Linked DNA regions of Homo sapiens: all the other regions are linked to region 2. Evidence: fine-mapped expression QTL. A gene starts in region 2. Each other region holds a variant in brackets. All regions are shown on one strand. Distances are between the middles of the regions. Region 1 overlaps LMBR1 (limb development membrane protein 1). Region 2 holds the start of RNF32 (ring finger protein 32). Region 3 overlaps LMBR1 (limb development membrane protein 1).

The links. PIP is the estimated chance that this variant, and not a neighbour inherited with it, causes the effect.
Region 1: its variant is the best candidate, but not a certain one, in a credible set for the expression of RNF32 in prefrontal cortex (ROSMAP, PIP 0.55).
Region 3: its variant is the best candidate, but not a certain one, in a credible set for the expression of RNF32 in lung (TOPMed, PIP 0.67).

Annotation. Positions count from the first base shown.
Region 1 is chr7:156,818,562-156,824,920 of GRCh38, reverse strand. The region is part of intron 4 of LMBR1 (limb development membrane protein 1); the gene reads left to right. Among named protein-coding and RNA genes, the nearest start is that of LMBR1, 71 kb to the left of the region's middle. RefSeq lists an enhancer at 3,733-4,233. The variant C/T (reference allele first, on the strand shown) is at 3,464.
Region 2 is chr7:156,637,228-156,643,586 of GRCh38, reverse strand. It overlaps RNF32 (ring finger protein 32), which reads right to left and starts at 2,813. Exons shown (of 9, transcript NM_030936.4): 1 at 2,776-2,813. RNF32-DT (RNF32 divergent transcript) reads left to right here and starts at 3,052. Exons shown (of 4, transcript NR_026865.2): 1 at 3,052-4,639. RefSeq lists a silencer at 2,913-3,222 and an enhancer at 2,791-3,382.
Region 3 is chr7:156,676,701-156,683,059 of GRCh38, reverse strand. It overlaps LMBR1 (limb development membrane protein 1), which reads left to right. Exons shown (of 17, transcript NM_022458.4): 17 at 1-5,269. It overlaps RNF32 (ring finger protein 32), which reads right to left. Exons shown (of 9, transcript NM_030936.4): 9 at 5,930-6,359. Among named protein-coding and RNA genes, the nearest start is that of RNF32-AS1, 20 kb to the right of the region's middle. The variant C/T (reference allele first, on the strand shown) is at 3,788.

The sequences.
Region 1 (6,359 bases), 180 kb before region 2:
TACAGTTAAGTGTGCTTTCGTTTTTATAGTAGGCATTTTCCACTTGGAAAACATCACTTTTTTTTTTTTTTTTATTGAGACAGGGTCTCGCTCTGTCGCCTAGCCTAGAGTGCAGTGACACGATCATGGCTGTCTGCAGGCTCCACCTCCTGGGCTCAGGTGATCCTCCCACCTCAGCCTCCCAGGTAGCTGGAACTGCAGGTGTGTGACACCACGCCAAGCTAATTTTTGGTGTTTTTTTTGTAGAGACAGGGTTTTGCCATGTTTCCCAGGCTGGTTTTGAACTCTTGGGTTCAAGTGATCTCCCACCTTGGCCTCCCAAAGTGCCGGGACTAGACATGTTGCCAAGATGTCACTTTTTATGTGTGACACGTGATTACTTGAGTTGCTGTAGAAGGCTGTGGTGCATTAGACTAATAATGTATATTCTTTTTTCATTGCTATTATGTTCATGGTGCTGTAATCCAGTGGAAGAAAAAGCAAGTTTAAATTTAAGAGATTACTAGTTTTATATGTAAGATAAATATACTTATTTGTCTTATTTCCTGTCTCTTGTTGTTTGAGAAAGTATAGAAGATAATTTTTGTAGGTGATGCTACCTTAGCAATCCCGTAAGCTTCTGCTGAGACTGTGGCCCTGTGTATTAAGAACAACAGCAACACCAACCGCTCCCTTATTTTTTTCTGCTCATAAAGTAGTGTGTGCTCACTATACAGAATATAGAAAATACTAAAATGTAGAAACAAGGAAAACTCCACATTTTTTCAGCGCGCGCGCGTGTGTATATATATATTGTTGTTGTTGTTGTTGTTGTTGTTGTTGTTGTTTTTTGAGATGGAGTCTCTCTCTGTCACCCAGGCTGGGGTGCAGTGGTGCGATCTTAGCTCACTGCAAGCTCCGCCTCCCAGGTTCATGCCATTCTCCTGCCTCAGCCTCCTAAGTAGCTGGGGCTACAGGTGCCTGCCACTATACCCAGTTAATTTTTTTGTATTTTTAGTAGAGACTGGTTTCACCGTGTTAGCCAGGATGGTCTCGATCTCCTGACCTTGTGATCCGCCCGCCTCAGCCTCCCAAAGTGCTGGGATTACAGGCGTGAGCCACCGTGCCCGGCTGCATGTGTGTATTATATATAGCATATGCAGTTTATACCTTTAAAACCTTTAATATTATATTGTGTTTTCCATACCTTTTATGTTCTTCAAAACCATTTTTAGTGGTGTAACCTGAGCCATGTATTTAGCAATATATTAAGCTAGTGGTTTTCAAAGGCTATTTCGTCATTTTAAAGGGTGGAACCATTTATCCCTCCAGTGACTTGCTACCTGCATTTTTTTCAGATTTGCAATAGAAAACAGCTGAGTTGTTCCTCAGGCACCAAACCCACCCTGTCCTCTTTGTGAAACATTTCACTTCACCAGTAAACTGTTGTTGAGCATCTAGAGGATTTTTAAATTTTCATTATTATTTGGGTTTCTGACAATTTCTTTACATGGAAATTAGAATGAAAATTATTAGGCTAATGAGTATTAATTGCTAAACTGTTTTCTAGAATTACTTGTTTATATTCTCTTGATAGACCATGAAGGTGCCTCTTGTTTTTAGCCATAAACTTAATAACAGTGAATATTAGTATCTTTAAAATCTTTTCCATTTTCATGGGTAGAAGGTAGTTTCTCATTATTGTAATGTTAATTTAAAAAATTTTTAGTCAGATAGGACATTTTAATTTTAATTTATAAAATATAGAAAAATATCTAATACATATATCATTTTATTTTTATTTATTTATTTTATTATTATAATTTTTTTGAGATGAAGTGTTGCTCTGTTGCCCAGGCTGGAGTGCAGTGGCGCAGTCTTGGCTCACTGCAACCTCTACCTCCCGGGTTCAAGCGATTCTCCTGCCTCAGCTTCCTGAGGAGCGGGGACTACAGGTGTGTGCCACCACGCCCAGATCATTTTTATATTTTTAGTAGAGACAGGGGGTTTCACCATGTTGGCCAGGCTGGCCTCAAACTCCTGACCTCAAGTGATCCACCCTCTTCGGCCTCTGAAATGCTGGGATTACAGGCATGAGCCACCGTGCCCAGCCCATGTATATTTTATTTGATTAATGTCCTTTGCCCTTTTTTGTGGTTGTTGCTTTTTTCATATTGAATTTATGATCTCTTTGTTTGAACACATCAGCTTTTCATTTCAATTTTTTACATGTTTTTCTGATTGTTATTTTGCTTTTTAATATTAATTGCTTTTTTCCAGAATTTGAATATTTTTTATAATATTTGGTTTTTCTTTTTCTCTTGGTGTCTCTAATTGTTTTTGTGTTTAGAAGATTGTTTCCCACCCTGAGATATGACAGCTAGTTGTCCCAATACCATTAATTGAATATTCTTTTCTGTACTGATTTTTTATGCTTCATTTTCAGTAAGCTAAATATTATATTAGCGTTTGTTTCTGGGCTCAGGTATGCAGGTTTTGGAGTCAGATAGACCTGGGCTTGAATTTCAAATCTGTCTGAAACCCTTAGCAACCTTGAGCATATTGTTTACGCTTTCAGAGTCTCAGTCTTTTATCTATAAAATGACCATATCAAGGTCTAGTTTATAGAATTATTATATGTAGTAAGTGGAATATATGTATAGTATAAAGTACCTAGTCTATTGCCTGGTGGCCAAGAGTAAGCAGGAAATAAATGCTGAGTTTTACTTTCTGTTTTTTCCCTCTGGTTTGTCTGTCTATTCCTATGCCAGTGCCATATTGTTTTAAAGACTGTAGTTTTGTAATACTTTGCTCCTACTAGGTTTTAAAAAGTTCATACATTTTATGAAGGTTTTCGTAAGCAAAGGCATGTATTTTGTGCAATATGGGACATTACAATGCTATGGAAATTTGTCTTTTAATTGTTTTGTCTGTGTTAGGGAAATGTATGTGTATAAACATGTTCGTGTGTGTTTAAATAAATAAATATTTGGTGGGGAGATTTGGAAAACAAAAGTCACAGTTAGCAGATTGGGTCCTTAGCAGTGGCTGTAGCCAGGCCAGCCTTGGTGAGTAGAAGGTGCTGGGTCCATGTATGATCTCCGTCCCTACCATCATGGTGACTTTGTTCCTGAGCCCATTGGGCAATGACAGGGGTGGCTGGGGAAGGAGGCTGACTAGTATCCACAGAGCCAGTCAGCCTATCCACTTAATTATTAAAATCTTCCTCTGCTGAGGTCACCCTTTGGTGAGCATTCACATGGGACACAAATACTTTCACATTTTTTTCCCATTCAAAGAGGTCTGTTCATGTACCTCATCCCAATTTTCTTATTTCCAGTTTTCCAATTGTGTTTCTTCAAGACTCTGAGCATCTGGCCAAACCATTGGCCATGGTCCATTAATATGTAATAATCACACATTTGGCTATTTCTCTTTCCAAGCAAAGCAAACCACCAGATGTACAGCCCATAGATCTGCCCAT[C/T]GGAGAGTTTCCCTTCACCGCTGTCCTTTTAGGGATGTTCCAGAAAGGGGCAGTAGTGCTGCAGTTGTCCACTAACGTGGGGGCCTGCATATCATGCAGAACCATCTGTAAACCAGGCCCAGGTCTTCCTCCGTCAGCTGATTTTAGGGAACTCTCCAGGAGACTGTAGGTGCAGGCTGGGAGAGAGAAGGCAGCGTAGCGGGAGTGGGGACCGTCGGCATTGGCGGCACTTCTTTATGTAACTTGTGCCTTTAGGGCCTACTTAGGCCCAGACATGTACCACTTCCATTTGATGATGGAATGCTGCTGTGCACACCCAACTTTCTGGCTTGGTGGGTCGGAAAACATTCAGTTCATGATGGGCAACTCAGGTCCCATGGTAACTTGGTGGTCCATGTTTCAGCATTCAATCCCTACTAAAGCCCCATAGTGGGTCAAGAGCTGTTTCTCAAAGGCAGTTGTTACCCACAAGGATGGCAGGGCGTTGCCCCAACATCCTAAGGGCCTGTGCTGCAGTTCACCTTGAGAGGAACCTGCCAAAGGCTCCACACAGCATGCGTCTCTGCCTCTGCCCTTTCAGACACCCTTGGATCTGCTGGGTCATGTGGCCCAGGAGGCAGAGCAGCCTGCACAGAGCCTGGAGCTGCCGCAGAGCCTTCCCTCCTTCTGGGCTGTACTCAAAACCAGCAGCTTTTCAGGCCGCTCAGTAAACCAGCTGGAGCAACACACGCAAATGAGAAATGTGTTGTCTTCGAAGTCCAGAGAGGCCTGCTAGATGTTATGCCTCTTTTTTGATGCAGGAGGCGCCAGATTCAACAATTTATCCTTCACCTTAGAAAGGATATCTCCATATACCCTACAACACTGGACCCCTAGAAATTTCACTGAGATAGAAGGCCCCTAAATTTTTGTCAGATTTATTTCCCACTTTTTGACACACAAATGTCTTACCAATAAGTTTAGAGTGGTTGTTAACTTCTCACTCACTAGTTACAATCAGCAAAATATCGTCAACATAATGGGCCAGTGTGATATTAATATCCTATGGAAGGGAAAGGTGATCAAGATTTCTGTGAACTAAATTATAATACAGGGCTACAGAATTTATATACCCTTGACGTAGGGCAGTGAAGGCGTATTGCTGGCCTTGTCAGCTGAAAGCAAACTGCTTCTAGTGGTCTTTACTAACAGGGACAGAGAGAAAAGCATTTGCCAGATCAGTAGCTGCATACCAGATAGGTGGCATGTTAATTTGTTCAGGCAATGAAGCCACATCTGGTACAGCAGCTGTAATTGGACTCACCACCTAGTTAAGCTTAACGATAATCTTCTGTTATTCTGGAAGCTCTGTCTGTCTTCTGCACAGACCAGATAAGAATCGAATGGGGGTGTAGTGGGAATCCCCACCCCTGCATCTTTCAAGTCCTCGACGGTGGCAGTAATCTCTGAAATCCCTCTAAGAATGCAGTATTGGTTTTGGTTTACTGTTTTCCCAGGTAGATGCAGTTCTAGTAGCTTCCACTTGGTCTTTCCCACCATAATAGCCCTCACTCCACAGGTCAGGAAATCAGTATGGGGATTCTGCTAGCCATTCCATTCCATTAATTGCCTTCTGGAAGAGAGGAGACAACCACAGGATGGGTTCAGGGACCCGCTCTGAGTTGGGCCTCTGCTAAAATTCCACTGATTACCTGACCTCCATAAGCCCCTACTCTGACTGGAGAGCCACAGGGAAGGTCTCCTAGGATCAGTGTCAGTTCAGAGCCAGTGTCCAGAAGTTCACGAACGGTCTGGTTATTTCCTTTTCCCCAGAGCACAGTTATATCACTAATATTCATTTGTCAATCTGTCATTTACAGTTTTGTGACATTTATGGGATTCTGTGAGTACTCAGAAAATGTTCAGATTCCTTTAATCTCCCATGGAGCATCTGTTCTAGTACTTTCATGTTGAAAGTGTTCAATAAATATTGATTGATTGAAGGAATAAAAGTCATTATAATTATATCATTAGGAATATTTTGGCAAAAGTGAATTTGAAAGGAAATTTAATGGCTTATTTTATAAAATTGTCAGTATGGATGTTTTTGATTGTGCCTTTAATGTGTAAATCACATATGGATTAGAGGCTAAATGTGTTGATAATGCTTTTTTTTGTATGTGCAAATATATTTAGTTTGGCTTAAATATAGTGTTTGGATTTTGGATACAGGTTTGAGATGTTATGTGTTAACCATATTACCTTGGAATGCTACTTTACTTTTCTGGGCAAGAATTTTGTAACACAAATAAAATAATAACCTTAGTAAACTGTGTCATGTAAGCAAGATGTATCTCTGTCTGCAGTGAGAAAATAGCTTGAAAAATGTGATACAGAAAAATGACATTGGAGCATTGGAGTTAGGAGACCTGATGATGATCCTCTGGCCTCTGGGTTTTGGCTGGTGGTTGTCATCACTTGTCAGCTTGATGCTGTGAGATGTGTTCTGTCATTCACACAGTGTGGGTCCATGACATGCCAGCAACTGTAGTTTGTTGTAGGATAGGGCAGAGATGACAAATTAAAATGGTAGTGTAAGTTCTTTTTGTTGTTAAAATAGGAAAAAGGGTTAAAAAATGGACCGAAAAAATAAAGTATCCACTTCTATACATTTTCTATATCTTGTGTACTGTTAAAAAATTAATAGGAAAATATGAAACTCTTCATTTCCATAAGTTGAAAAACAATGATACAGCTGCTTTGTGGGTTTTCCTTTTGGGGGTGATAAAAATGTTTCGGAGTTAGGTAAAGGTGGTGGTTGCACACCATTGCAAATGAACAGTTCAGTGCAAATGCCACTGAATTGTTCACTTTAAAATCGCTAATTTTAAGTAATGTGAGTTTAATATCAAAATAA
Region 2 (6,359 bases):
GAGCTCCTGAGGACACATTAATACAAATGGTTAATTACTATGAATTAATCCATTGCTAAATATAACATGATACATAAGTACTACAAAACTTCAGGCTAACACTGGAGACTTGGAAAAACCAGTTAAACTGGCATTTGAAAGATACACAGAGGGAAATGAAGATGGCACATTACAGGTAGGAGGAAAGAACTGGCAGGCTGGAAATCAGCATGATATGCTTATTTTGGGGAGAAAGGGAACAATGAAGAAACTGGAACGCAAGAGGAACACTGGCTAACTTCAGTCTGTCCAGAACACAGAAGTACAGAATATGGGGACAGACCAACTTGAGTTCCAATTGAACTCTACCGCTTTGCTGCGCAAGATACTGGACACAGCTGAGCCCCAGGCTCCTCATCTATAAAGCAGGTATAATAACGCTGGCTTTGCAGGGTTGCCGCAAGGATTAATGAGACAACCTTTGAAGTATCTAAAGTAGGTCTTTTCACACAGAACTTACTCTTGTTATTCTTGCTTCAATTCCCTTCAAAGCTGGTGGAATAATTTGGAATTGGCCCTTTTAGATTTTGGACATGGTGTATTTTATGAAGACAGATGTATTCAAAATATACTGTGATGAGGAGAAATAGAAAGTTATTCAAGTAATCTAGGAACTGGCACAGAAGGCCCTTGAACATATTTCTTCTAATGTTGTTTCCCTATAACGCTGATGAGAAAAAAAATTGATCCCCAGCAGGGGCCACTGTCTGTTTGGAGTTTGCACGTCCTCCCCATGTGCTGTGGGTTTCCTCCAGGTACCCCGGGTTCCTCCCACATCCCAAAGCTGTGCACGTGAGGCTCACTGGGGCGTCCCCGTCTGAGTGAGTGTGAGTGTGCCCTGCCATGGGATGCCGTCCTCTCCAGGACTGTTGCCCGCCTTGGTCCTGAGCTGCCTGGATGGGCTCAGCCCCCTGCCACCCTGAACTGGAATAAGCAGGTTGGAAAATGAAAGGATACAAATTATTGTCAAATAAAAACTCGTAAAGCATACGGTATTCACACAGAGATGCAGGACAATACCCGATGCAGTAAGAAAGGCCCAGCGGGCTGAGAAGTGGCTCCTGTTTGTTTTGAAACTGCATGGTAGGGGGAGGTGCTTCAGAGCTTTGGCTTGGCCAACATTATCTTTAACACAGCCCCTCCACAACCCGGTCACTCATGGATTCACCAGAAATTGGGTAATGATATTTCTTAAATGTAGAGCTCATATGTACTTCAGTGTTTCATATTAGAAGTGCTTTGGTCTTTATTTAGAAGTTTGGCGATGTTTTTGTGACCAGGAATGTGCTGTGGGAACTTTCCTCTTATTTATATCAATTAACCTATGGTGAAACTGGTTTCCTTGTACACTGCATGGCTTAAAGCTCCAGTTTCTAAGAACCTATGGATGATGTTAAGTGAAGACTTACTGTGTTGAGGGCCTAACTCTAAAAATAGAAAGAAATTAATCCAAAATGTATTTCTAAGGACTAACACTTGTATTAAATTACTCCAACCGAAAGAACAAACTCACTAAGGCGTGAGTGGAGAGATAGAAAAGCACAGTGGAACCAAATCTCTGAGATATCCAGGGTTAGAAGTAAAAACGTCAGTCGCTGCTCAAGTCCTGGAGGCTTTGATGATGGTTCTTACTACAGCCCTTTTCTGTTCCCGTTCAATTCTGGCATCAAGAGATGTTTGAAATAAGTTCCACCCTGTATCTCATCAAGACAACTGAACTTGGAGAAATGGTGGAATTTAAAATACTGAAAGATCACTGCCAGAATTTTCTCAGTTCCTGCTTCCAAAATGCCTATAACCTGCAGAAGATACAGTTTGCATCACACTAAAAATGGTCCGGTCATAGCTGCAGTCTGCAATTTAATCTCAAGTTTCTACACAGTAGACCACTGTCATTAATATCAAGGTAAGAGCTTTTAAAACCTATACTCTCTTAAAGTCCTACGGTATCATTAAGTTTTAGAGTTTAAAATTCAGAATTTAAAGGTATTGAAAACCCTTCAAGTACCTACTCCAACTCCACTTTATAAATGAGAAAACCAAATACCAGGTGAGTCCTTCAATATATAATGAGCCTGCGGCACTGGTAGGGTTAGAAACGTAACCCTTGCCCAGTATTGAAAGCTAAGATTAACAGGAACCCGTTGCTTTGTAAATCCCAGTATTAAACGCTCAAGAGGCAGAGCTTGGTGGCAAAAACGATCACTGGGGTGCCAAAGCGAGTAACCTCAGCTAATTAAACACGCTCAATAAAAATACACGAGACCAAGCCTACGACGTAAAGATGCAATCCTACGTAGGGTCTTGGTGTTATCTCCTGCCTTCTGAACCCCGCTGACCGTTTTCTGAGGTTCCACTCATGCAGGAAGCGCGCGGTGACGAGGCTCCAATTCCTCTCAAAGCTGACACCACCCTGCACCTGGGGCCCCTGATGGCAGCCGGTCCTACCGGGTTCTAAAATTACCGACGTGGGATCACTGTTCTAAGGCTTTAGGCAGCCGTAAATTCGTACCCCTCAGATAGAAGGAGCTGTGGAAACTAACCAGGACCCCGAGTCCCCCAAGGAGGCTGCGCGCCGCTACGGGACCCGACCTCGCCTCACAGCTGCGGCCATCGCCGGCCCGGCTCGGAGGAGGCGAAAGCGAGGCCGCGGACGGCCCTCACCCCGAATCCATGGACCCCGCCCGCCTGGCGGGCCACCCTTCTTTCCGTCCCTCCCCCGAAGCCTCTCCGTGCCTCGACTCCTCCGCGAACACCGGAACCCAGGGACGTCTGCCCCTTTTCCCTCAGGCAACTCCCTGGCCGCCCACCGTTGCCGTAGCAACGCCCGCCTCCGCGCTCGCTCCCCGCGGGCTTGCTCACCAGCCCTGCCCCGCCCCGCCCCATACTGCGCATGCTCGCCAGCCCCGCCCGGCCCACATTGCGCATGCTTGCCAACCACGCCCTGTCCACACCACACTGCGCATGCTCGCCGGCCCCCGCCCCGCGCACGGCGTCAGCGTCTAGACGCAGGTGCGTTCCCGTCGAGGCTCGCGCAGCGGGCGTTTTTGGGGATCGCCTGGCGGGGGTGTTCGGGAGCCGCGGGCTGAAGCACGGGGGCGTGCAGGCGCCCAGGCCTCGTGTAGTGAGGGCCGAGCCCCGCGCCGGCTTCGCTGTAGTCCGCAGCCCCCGGCGGCTTTGTGGGCGCAGCCACGCTCCTCAGCCGCCCGCCCACCTGGGCCTGGGCCCCGGTTGTTTCCCTGCGGTGGCTGTGGTCGTTCCCGTTCCAGGGTCTCGAGCGCACCGCCCCTTCGCTGCGCTGTTAGTCGAGGGCAGTTTTCTGGGGGATCCCCCGATCCCCCCGCGCCGCTCAGGCGTCTTGGCTCGCGGAAGCGCAGGCGCCGACTGCCTGGCGTCGTCCGTGACTCCTGGCCCTTCTCTGTGGATCCCTTTGCTTCTCGTTGCGGGTTGTGTTTCCTGCTTCGTGGGCCTGGCCGTTTGCGTTTGGATGCAGGCCCGGGTGAGCCCTGCGTGGCCCGCTGGCCTTTTCCTGCTCCCTAGGTGACTGAGCCGCGTGTGTGACACATCGGAGTGAATTGAGGCAACGCGTTCCTTTCCAGGCTTGCAGCGGGCGGTGTCGTTCACGCTCCTGAGCAGAGCCTTCCGGTGCTTTACTCGACGCCACAAATAGTGCAGGGTTCCTCCCAGGGGCTGTCGCGAGCTAGAACTCTTCCCCGCCCCTGTGAGCTCGGGCTGTTCTTCCTCCTCCGCGTGGCTCACTCCAGCCTCGGATGTTTCCTCGCTGCACAGACCTGCTCGGGAAGACTCGAGAAGGCCACCCCAGGACTCCAGCTCTCCCCGGAAGGGCTTCCCCTCGGATTGCGTCTTGGCCCCTGGAACCCTCCCTCTGTATCCTCTGCTGTTCCTCTCTTGGCCTCCATTTGGGTTGTGGCCTGGATACTCTGGCTCGCTGCTTCCCTTCTCTTAAGGATCACAGCCCTGCACTGCCTGTCGTCCGGTGCCTGGAAACCATTGTATTTTTTGGTCTGATTTTGTAGTTGTTTGAGAACTTAAGTCTGGTCCCTCACACTCCATGCCCAGAAGCAGAAATGAGTAAAGTTTGTTTTATCTTTTCTTAATATGACAATTATTGTGTTGGTTCAACTTATGTTGTACTTTAATTAGAAGAAATTTGGCCGAAAATACAAGGAAAATATACAAATGCAAGTAATTTTTTTTAAACTTCCCTGAAAGCAGGGTCTAAAGAAATTACCAACCAACTTAGACTGGATCTAGAAGAAAAGGAAGGGTCTTTGCAGTCTTAGGACTCTTCCGTTCCGCGACGTAGGTGTTAGGATAACAGCCATAAATGGTTGTAAGACTTTGGGCTCAGATAAGTAGACTTAAGTTCAAATTTTGACTTATTTTACAAGTGTGTGATTTTTGGCAAGCTCATCTTCCTAAACCATGAGCTCCTTATTTGTAAAGGGGACATTAGCCACTCTCCAGCAACAGCCCTGGTACTTCTTCAGTCCTGGGATGGGACGTATGATTAGCCTAAGCGAACCAGAAAATCCAGGCCCGTGACCAGTGACTTGATCAGGGCTGGCGATATATCTAGGTAGGCCAACCAGGTGGACTCAGTATTTTTGTGGGTGCTACTGGAAAATTTATTTAATTCTAACTGAATGTAGAAACAGCAACAGACATGAAATGGCAGTTGTATTGCTGTCTTATCATGAGGTGAGGGCCTGAAGCTATGGTAGCCACCCTGTGAACCTTGGAAGGAGGGTTCTACAGGAACTGGCAGAGCTGAGACTGGGACGCAACCCATGTCCTGGTGACGTATTTGAGTCCTGAGGCTGGCCCTCCTGTTAGTCTTTTCTCTTACTGGCTTCAGCCAGATGGGGTCTGGTTTTCTGTTACTTGCAACAGGAAAAATTGGAATGATATCTATGCATGCTATTACCGCCTTATGGCTGTGGTGAGATTAAAACATGATACTGTGGGTGAACTGCTTAGTACAGTGCCTGCTATTCTTTATGTTGGTTTTAAGGTATTTTTCTTGAACTTTAAAGTTCTAAGAAAAATTACCGTTTTAAAATTCCTACCCTCTGTTCACATGTTTAAATTTTCATGATAGTTTTTCTGTCTGCATGTTTTCTATTCAAAATAAATTGGTCATTCTTCAGTTAGCCACGAAGAATATTGTGAATTTTTTATTTTTAAATTTATTTTTTATTGATACATATTAGATGAACATGTTTTTGGATAACGTGATAATTCGATAAATTCATAAAATCAAATCAGGGTAATTGGGATATCCATCCCCTTAAATATTTATCTTCTATTTACACTAGGAACATTCAAATTATTCTAGCTATTTTGAAATGTGCAATCGATTTGTGTTAAGTATAGGCTTGACTGAAAATTTAACCTTATTGCTTTCTAATTCTTGACAAAAACAAAGCTAACATAGTTGATATTTGAAGAATACATTCATTCTTCAAGATAGTGTGTTCTGTTGAAATGAGTTAGATGATCAGAATGCAACATTCTTGGATAGGGATAATTAAAAATATAGTCAACCTATCTTGTCCCCAAAACCATGTTATCAATGATTTGTATTTTAACATTATGCCTTTTGTTTTAAAAAAGTTTTTTTGTTTTTTTGAGATGGGCCTGAGAAACTGCATGTATACAAAGCATGTTTACATCTTCAGAAAACTGCTATTGAGTACATTCTCCATGGTGCTGTTCAGTGCCATTTGTGTAAGCACCCACATGATTGTTTTAGAATTTCAAAACCACTAATTGAATGTCCTAGGAATAGTGGAGACGGAAGAGAAAATTAGAGGTGCATGATGTTAAGGATGTTGAGGTGCTTAGTCACAAGGAGAAGGGCACCAGTGTACTTGGCTGATTAAGATGCACTTCTGTACTCCACTGTGCTTAAGAAGAAAGCTGCGGGTGGTACTCTAAGAGATCTGTTGTATAAACATTATCACAAAAAGAGTGATGATACCTGTGCTTATCCAAGGAAGAGCAGCCCAAGATGGATGGCAATAGCGGACTATTTAAGTGGAAGACATTGATATGAAGGGAAAATCTTATATTTTGCTTGTGTAGAGCGCAATTCACAGAAAGTGTTCAAATACTAGAATAGGCAGTTGGAGTCCAGCTTGTGGAAGATGGGGTTTTCTTCATGATGACACTAGAGATCATGATATTGGATACTAGTGCTGGCCCTGTATTTTTATTTATTTATTTATTTATTTATTTATTTATTTATTTATTTATTTATTTTGAGACAGAGTCTCTGTTGCCCAGGCTGGAATGCA
Region 3 (6,359 bases), 39 kb before region 2:
TGGTGTAAGAACAGTTTTGCAGTATAACACGATCTGATAATCATTCAGTTATTAAATTGTAAATAATTATTGGGATGGTTTCTTGGCTTTAAGTCCACTGAATAAAAACTATGAAATTGCACTCTGTGTCAACCATCCACTAGGATAGAATACCGAAATCTGTGCATGCAAAAATAGGAGATGGGCCCATTTGCACACAATTCGTAGTTATGCAGTCTGCTATATAAATATGTTCACATGCACTGTGTGTATGAAAATAGATGGTCTGTGTTCAGACAAAAGTAAAACATTTTTTTCAAATTGTTACATTTAAAGGTTTTCTGGGAGAAATTTATGAAACGCAGGCTGTGTCTATTTGACATCAGAAATTTCCACTTTAAACCAAAATAATAAGAAACTTTAATCTGTATATTTACAACCTTTGTTGAGTACACTTCCCCCTTATTTATACGTCTGCATTTCCTTCCGAGCTTCACATCTTTCTAAAATGCAGCTTGGTTTTAAAATAAAAGAACATTCATTTTGTGATTCTAAACAAGCTTCAGTAAATACCACCAGTATAGTACTGGTGAATTTCTCAGCATAAAATCGACATACCTAAAAAGTTAATAAAATTCAGCTCTTTTCCAATTTCATTGTTATGCCTATTGAAGTATTAATTGCCAGGTTTGATTTTTAGTGAAGCTTGGAGTCCATACTTTGAGCAGACCAAGTGAAGGGAAGAACAGAAAGAAACTCAGGAGTAGAGTAATATCACTTCTCACTTACACCACTTTCAGGCACATCCAAAGAGTTCCTAGATACTTGGAAAATGTCTGAAAATTTTTAAGTAAAATACTAAACTTTTCAGTGTTTAGCTCAACTTTTTGTTCATTTGGAAGTTTCTCTCCATCCGAGGACTTAAGCCAGTTTTGGATTTGTAAGCCCTGAGTACAATACACTTCCTGGAGGCATCCTCACTGCTGTTGAAGCAAAGGATATGCATGGGGTGGAAGGACGGCTTCGAACCTGGGACTCATATGCCTTGAGAACAAATAGATTGTTACAGCCTTGGGCTGCTGCGTAATCACGGTTCCTCGAGGCTCTTCCTGAGCACATGCCCAAGCATCTGCCTCTGGAGAGACTGACTCCAAATGCAGGTGCTTCCATTGGAGCTAGGTCGGAGGCTGCTTTATATGACGAACTCCAGAAATGGATGCCAGAATACGGAGGCCAAACGTTCTGAGTCCTGGTAAGGACAGTCGCTCTGGGGGTCCTCATTTTACTGCAGTTCCTGCACGCCAGTGAAAGAGAGGAGATAGACCCTGGAAGGCAGAGCTGCAGATGCTCATCATCAGGTCAATTCTGGAGCTACAGTTTTGTTTCTGACTGGATAGGGATGCACCAGTGACTGTCACATCAAGCAGTCCTTTTATTCTCTCTCCTTTAGTATCGATTTTAAAGGGCATTAGGCACTATGGTTCCAGAGTTTCTTGGGGAAAACTTGCAGATTCTTATTAATTGGTTCTGCAATACTTAAATAAATTATTTTACAATTATAAGTTTTCAGATTATAACATTTGTATTAATTTTTACTGATTTTCCAAGATACTTCTTAGATTTACTATTTACGTAGCTTTATGTACATTCTCTGTAAAAATAGACCTCTAAATATGAGGCTTTACATGAAATTTGTACACACATACACACTAATGTTAGCTCCTTAAATTGCTGCACTAAGGTGCTGGTTAGTAGAGATGGACGGAGCCTCTCGCGTTTTGCTCTCAGATGTGTTAAAGGCGCACGTGTACCTGCTCTCAGCGGCAGTGCGGCCTCCCCATCTGCTGGGTGCCCATGGCCCTCCCTGCAGCCTCAGTGATGACCTCGTCTGCCAGGGACACAGGTTTTCATCATTTACAGGCTCTTATGTGCTAGTTTTGTTGGTAGCACGTTATTTAATGCATAAAGGCAGAATTCTTACAAGTTTTTTTTTTTAATGTGAACATAGATGCAGCACCGACTTTTTAAACTTGAAAAAACTGGTATAATGTTAACTTTTAAAAATAACATTTGGACACACTAGTAATTGATTTTTGTTTACAGATTGTTTTGTTTACAAATTGTTAGTCTTTGTTTCTATGAGATACTTTTAGTGTGACTTTTTAAATGTCTTAGAAATTAAAAGTTGTACAAAAAGTGATTTCATATTTGGTTTATAAGCATTTATATGTGGGGTTTATTTGTTCTTTTGTTTTTTCCATCTTAAATATTATCATGGCTAAAACTTAAGGGTATTTATAGTTTAATTCCATTTCAGTTTTATAGAGGGCAGTAATTATTCTGATGAATGTTGAATTAAGAAATGGATATTTTCTTTCTCTGTTGTGCAGTTATTGGTAGATCAATTTCTTATAACCCACAATGTAGCATCAATAATTGATAGCATGTATTTTATTTAATTACTTGAATTATTTAGACTTGATTTCTCTAATTTTTTCCATAAAAGGACTGAACAGCACCTACTTGTGGTCTGGACAGCTTAACCCAGAGTTCCTGGAAGAATAAATGCTGTTAGCATCTGGTTAATTTACTGGCAGACAGAAGCCTACTTACAGTGGCTTTCAACTTTTTGACCACAGTAAGAAATAACCCATTACACACACACACACACACACACTCTCTCTCTCTCTCTCTCTCTCTCTCTGTCTCTCAGATACGTATAAGCAAAAATTTAACAAGACAGTACTTGTTTTTCCTAAGTGTGCATGCTGGCATCTTCTGTTTTATTATTTTTAAAAATACTAGACACAGACACTAAGTTACTTTGTGGCCTCCTAATAGATGGCAGACTTCAGTTTGAAAAGCATCCCTTTGGAATGTGGTTTAAAAGAAGAAATAATACAAAGACCTTTTTGGAGTTTTTTTTTTTTTTGGTTTTTGAATATTGTTTAGGTAAAAATTATTGCTGCAAACACAACTGAAGCAAAAGTACTGTGTACGCAAATTACTTGTTGCACTGTAGAAAATGTAATATCAGGAGAAGTTCCTAAAACTCACAAATATATACAAAATTTCAAAACTTGGTGATTGATCCATATGTCTTGAAGGAATATTAGGCAATAAACTTACCTTTTCAAGAGAAGTTATTTAACTTCCAATTCTGTGTTCTTTAATTAGGAAAAAATTTTTTCAAGGTTAACTATAATCAAATAGGAACTTCACACAAAACCTCATTATTCTTGGATATGGATTTGGTGTTCTGCTGTTACTTCTAAAGGTGGTACAGAAGTCAAGTTTATGAGCCTGGATTATGAACAGCAGGGCGGCCCTGATGTGAGTGGTTGTGGAGGACTAGAGTGATGTAGAAGAATCTGTTGTGTCTGAGTGTGAGGAGGTGGAGAGTCACGTGTGGGCTATGGGTCTGAGAACTGAAGTTTTAACAGTTACTAAAACTGTTTTGTGGCTGTTGTAATGTCTTCTCCTTTCCTTTCCTTTGAAAAGCTGTTACTGAATGAACGATGCCGCTTACAAACACTGACACTTCAGAACCAAGCATATTTGATACTGCTGTAGCTATTTATATTGATTCTGCAACTTCTCTTTAACAGCATCTTGAAGTCATCCACAGTTGTTCTATATGGACTCCACAGTAGAGTCAGAGAACTAAGTGACAAGTGGAGCATCGTCCTCCTCCTGCTCACTTCCTCCTCGCCACCTCTCTGGCCTGGCTATCCTTCAGTCTGAAGAGTGATTCACTTTTTCTTTTCTTTTTAGTCTTTACTGTGGAATCTCATCAAAGACTTGGAAG[C/T]AGGGGTGGTGAGAGGGGCCTGGGGCGTGGTGTGGAGGGTCGAGTTCTTTGTCGTCCCACAGTCACCCCCAGGACCACCTTGCGAAGCCGAAAATACACATCTGCATTTTACCGACAAGGAACGCCACTGAGAAAGCTGCAGACATTTGCCTGGGGTCACGCTTACAGTGGGCAGATGAACTGGATGTAAATACAGGCCAGTACAACCGCAGTCTCATTTTTTCTTTGTTTTAGGTTTTCAGTTTCTTGTTCATTCATGTACCTTACAGTTCTATTATCTGGTTGATAAAGATTCATGACAGGTATCCTCATTCTAGATTATAACCTTTATTCTTATCAAATGCCTCCAGTCCCACAATTCGCTAAGAATTCTCTTTCTGGACTTGATAGTGATTTAATGATTCCCCCCGCCCATGGAATGGTAGGCTCCTAATTAAGTGGATTTAAAGGCAAAAAGGGATGTGTGAGAAGGCACAAGAAGTGGCTTCATCTTGCAAGGTGACTGTCAGACAAGTGGGTTCCAACCTGTTAAAATAAGGGAGGAATGGCCACATCCCGTAGGGACTGCTGTAGCTGACCAGGAAGACACAATGAGGGCAGCAGACAGGGCTCTCCCTGTCCGCTGAGTCCTCCCATGAACTCATGTTTCCAAAGGCCCCACTCTTTCTTGGTCAGTGTCCCAGTTTTTATAGAAGAGACCTGATGAGGCTGTGGAGTAATTGTATAAAAGCTTGCACTGTTTTCCTGACTTGACCTGACAATGTGGCGTTATCTTCAAATTGTCCAGAGAAGTAGCTACTTCATTCAGGTCCTTTTTAGCGTTCTGTGGTTGCAACTTGGTCTCGCAAGCTTTCGATGGGCGCGCCATTCCATGGCCACTTTTCAGTAAGAAAATTGCCTGATTTTCTGTTAACTGTCACAGGCTGCCCTGGACCATTCCTCAGAACTCATGGGATTTTCGCGACCCTCATCCTCAGTGAAGTTAGATGACCATTCCTGCCTTTCATCCCACCGATTTTCCTAAGTATCTGTTGCCTGCAACTAACACTAGTTCCTGTGTCAGTAAAGTACTGCACTTGGTTGCAAAGAATAGAGATGGACTCTGCCAACATAGGCACGGAAGGTTTACGGGGTGGATGGCATGGCTCACAGATGTGATGAGAAAGCCCCGGAAGAAGTGTTGGGCACAGCCTTAGGCACAACCTTTCCTGGGCTCTTCCCATCACTGAATGATCCATGTATCTCCGGGACTCTCCTTCTAGATCCAAAGTTTAGGGCGGCGGAATCGGACTGCTCTGGCCTTTGACACGTGCCTGTGCTTTGCCTGTCAACGCTATGGGGAGAGAGATGTCAGCTTACAGAAAATTGAGGTTCTGTGATTCAGTTTCCCTCTGCTCTCTTAGAATAAAAGTGCTTACTCATTGTTTAAAGCATTCTCCAAATTAGTCTGCAAATTTTTTGATAGTATACATCCTTAAAAAATGAGCACATCCCAATATATGCATATTTATTCATAAATGATACATACATATGTAGCTATATAATGTGTACATCACAAAACATAGGAGAGTATTTTTTCTAAGGGATGAGATAAGAATAAATAGAAATTTTGGCATTTCTTCTCACATTAGATGCTGGGTTATTCTGAGCCCATGCCATGTGCACACCCACTTGGCCTCTTCCTCTTAGGCCTACACCCTGCCCTTTCCTTGCCCCTTGTAGTTACTGTGGCTGGAGTGATGAGCGCCACTCCCAAGCATGGCCTGGAACAATGTCCTCCTGCCCCTCCACCAGCAGTGACAGGATTCACTGGGGACTCGGGGGCAAAGGAGACTGTGTCACAAGACAAAAGGAGCCAGGGTCACACATGGTGTACCCTCGCCCTGCCTCACCCATGGCTGACATGGGTTGGACACCTCAGAAATCATGTGTCTTCAGCGAGCCACTGAGAGTTGGGGCTTTATCTGTTACTCGGCTAGGGGTAACCTAACCGATGAGACTGTAACTGGTTACTGTAAATAACCAAGCTCCCAGTAATAGTAAACCAGTGACAAAAACAATTCTTATCCAAAAAGGTTCACTTTTTTTTAAAATGTGTGAACTAAAACAGTCTTTATTGCTCTAAGACATTAAAATTTGCACTTTTTTGATGTTGAATACCACTGAATATTTTATTTTTATATTTTATTACACAGAAATACAGCAATTATTACAAAACGAGTATTAGGAATGGCAAAGGCTTTAGGACAGACTATTAGCGGAAAACATTTGGAACTTAAGGAGTGTTTTACATTTGGAACTTACTTTAAGGAGTGTCGTTCAGACACTAGCTATATCTTAACCTCAATTTTTAGAAGTAAGCAAGCTCTCATTTTTTGCTATTCATATTTGAAGTGATTAAACTCATAAATTTGAAATTTACTTTTTAGAGACCAAAGATTAAAATTAGGTGGGATGTCAGCTTTTAAAATATACTAAGATTTCCTACAACTACCAATAGCTTATTTCCCTGGGAAACAGATTACATTGTAGTACTTAACCCAGAACTCATGCAGTTCATCCAAAATGATGG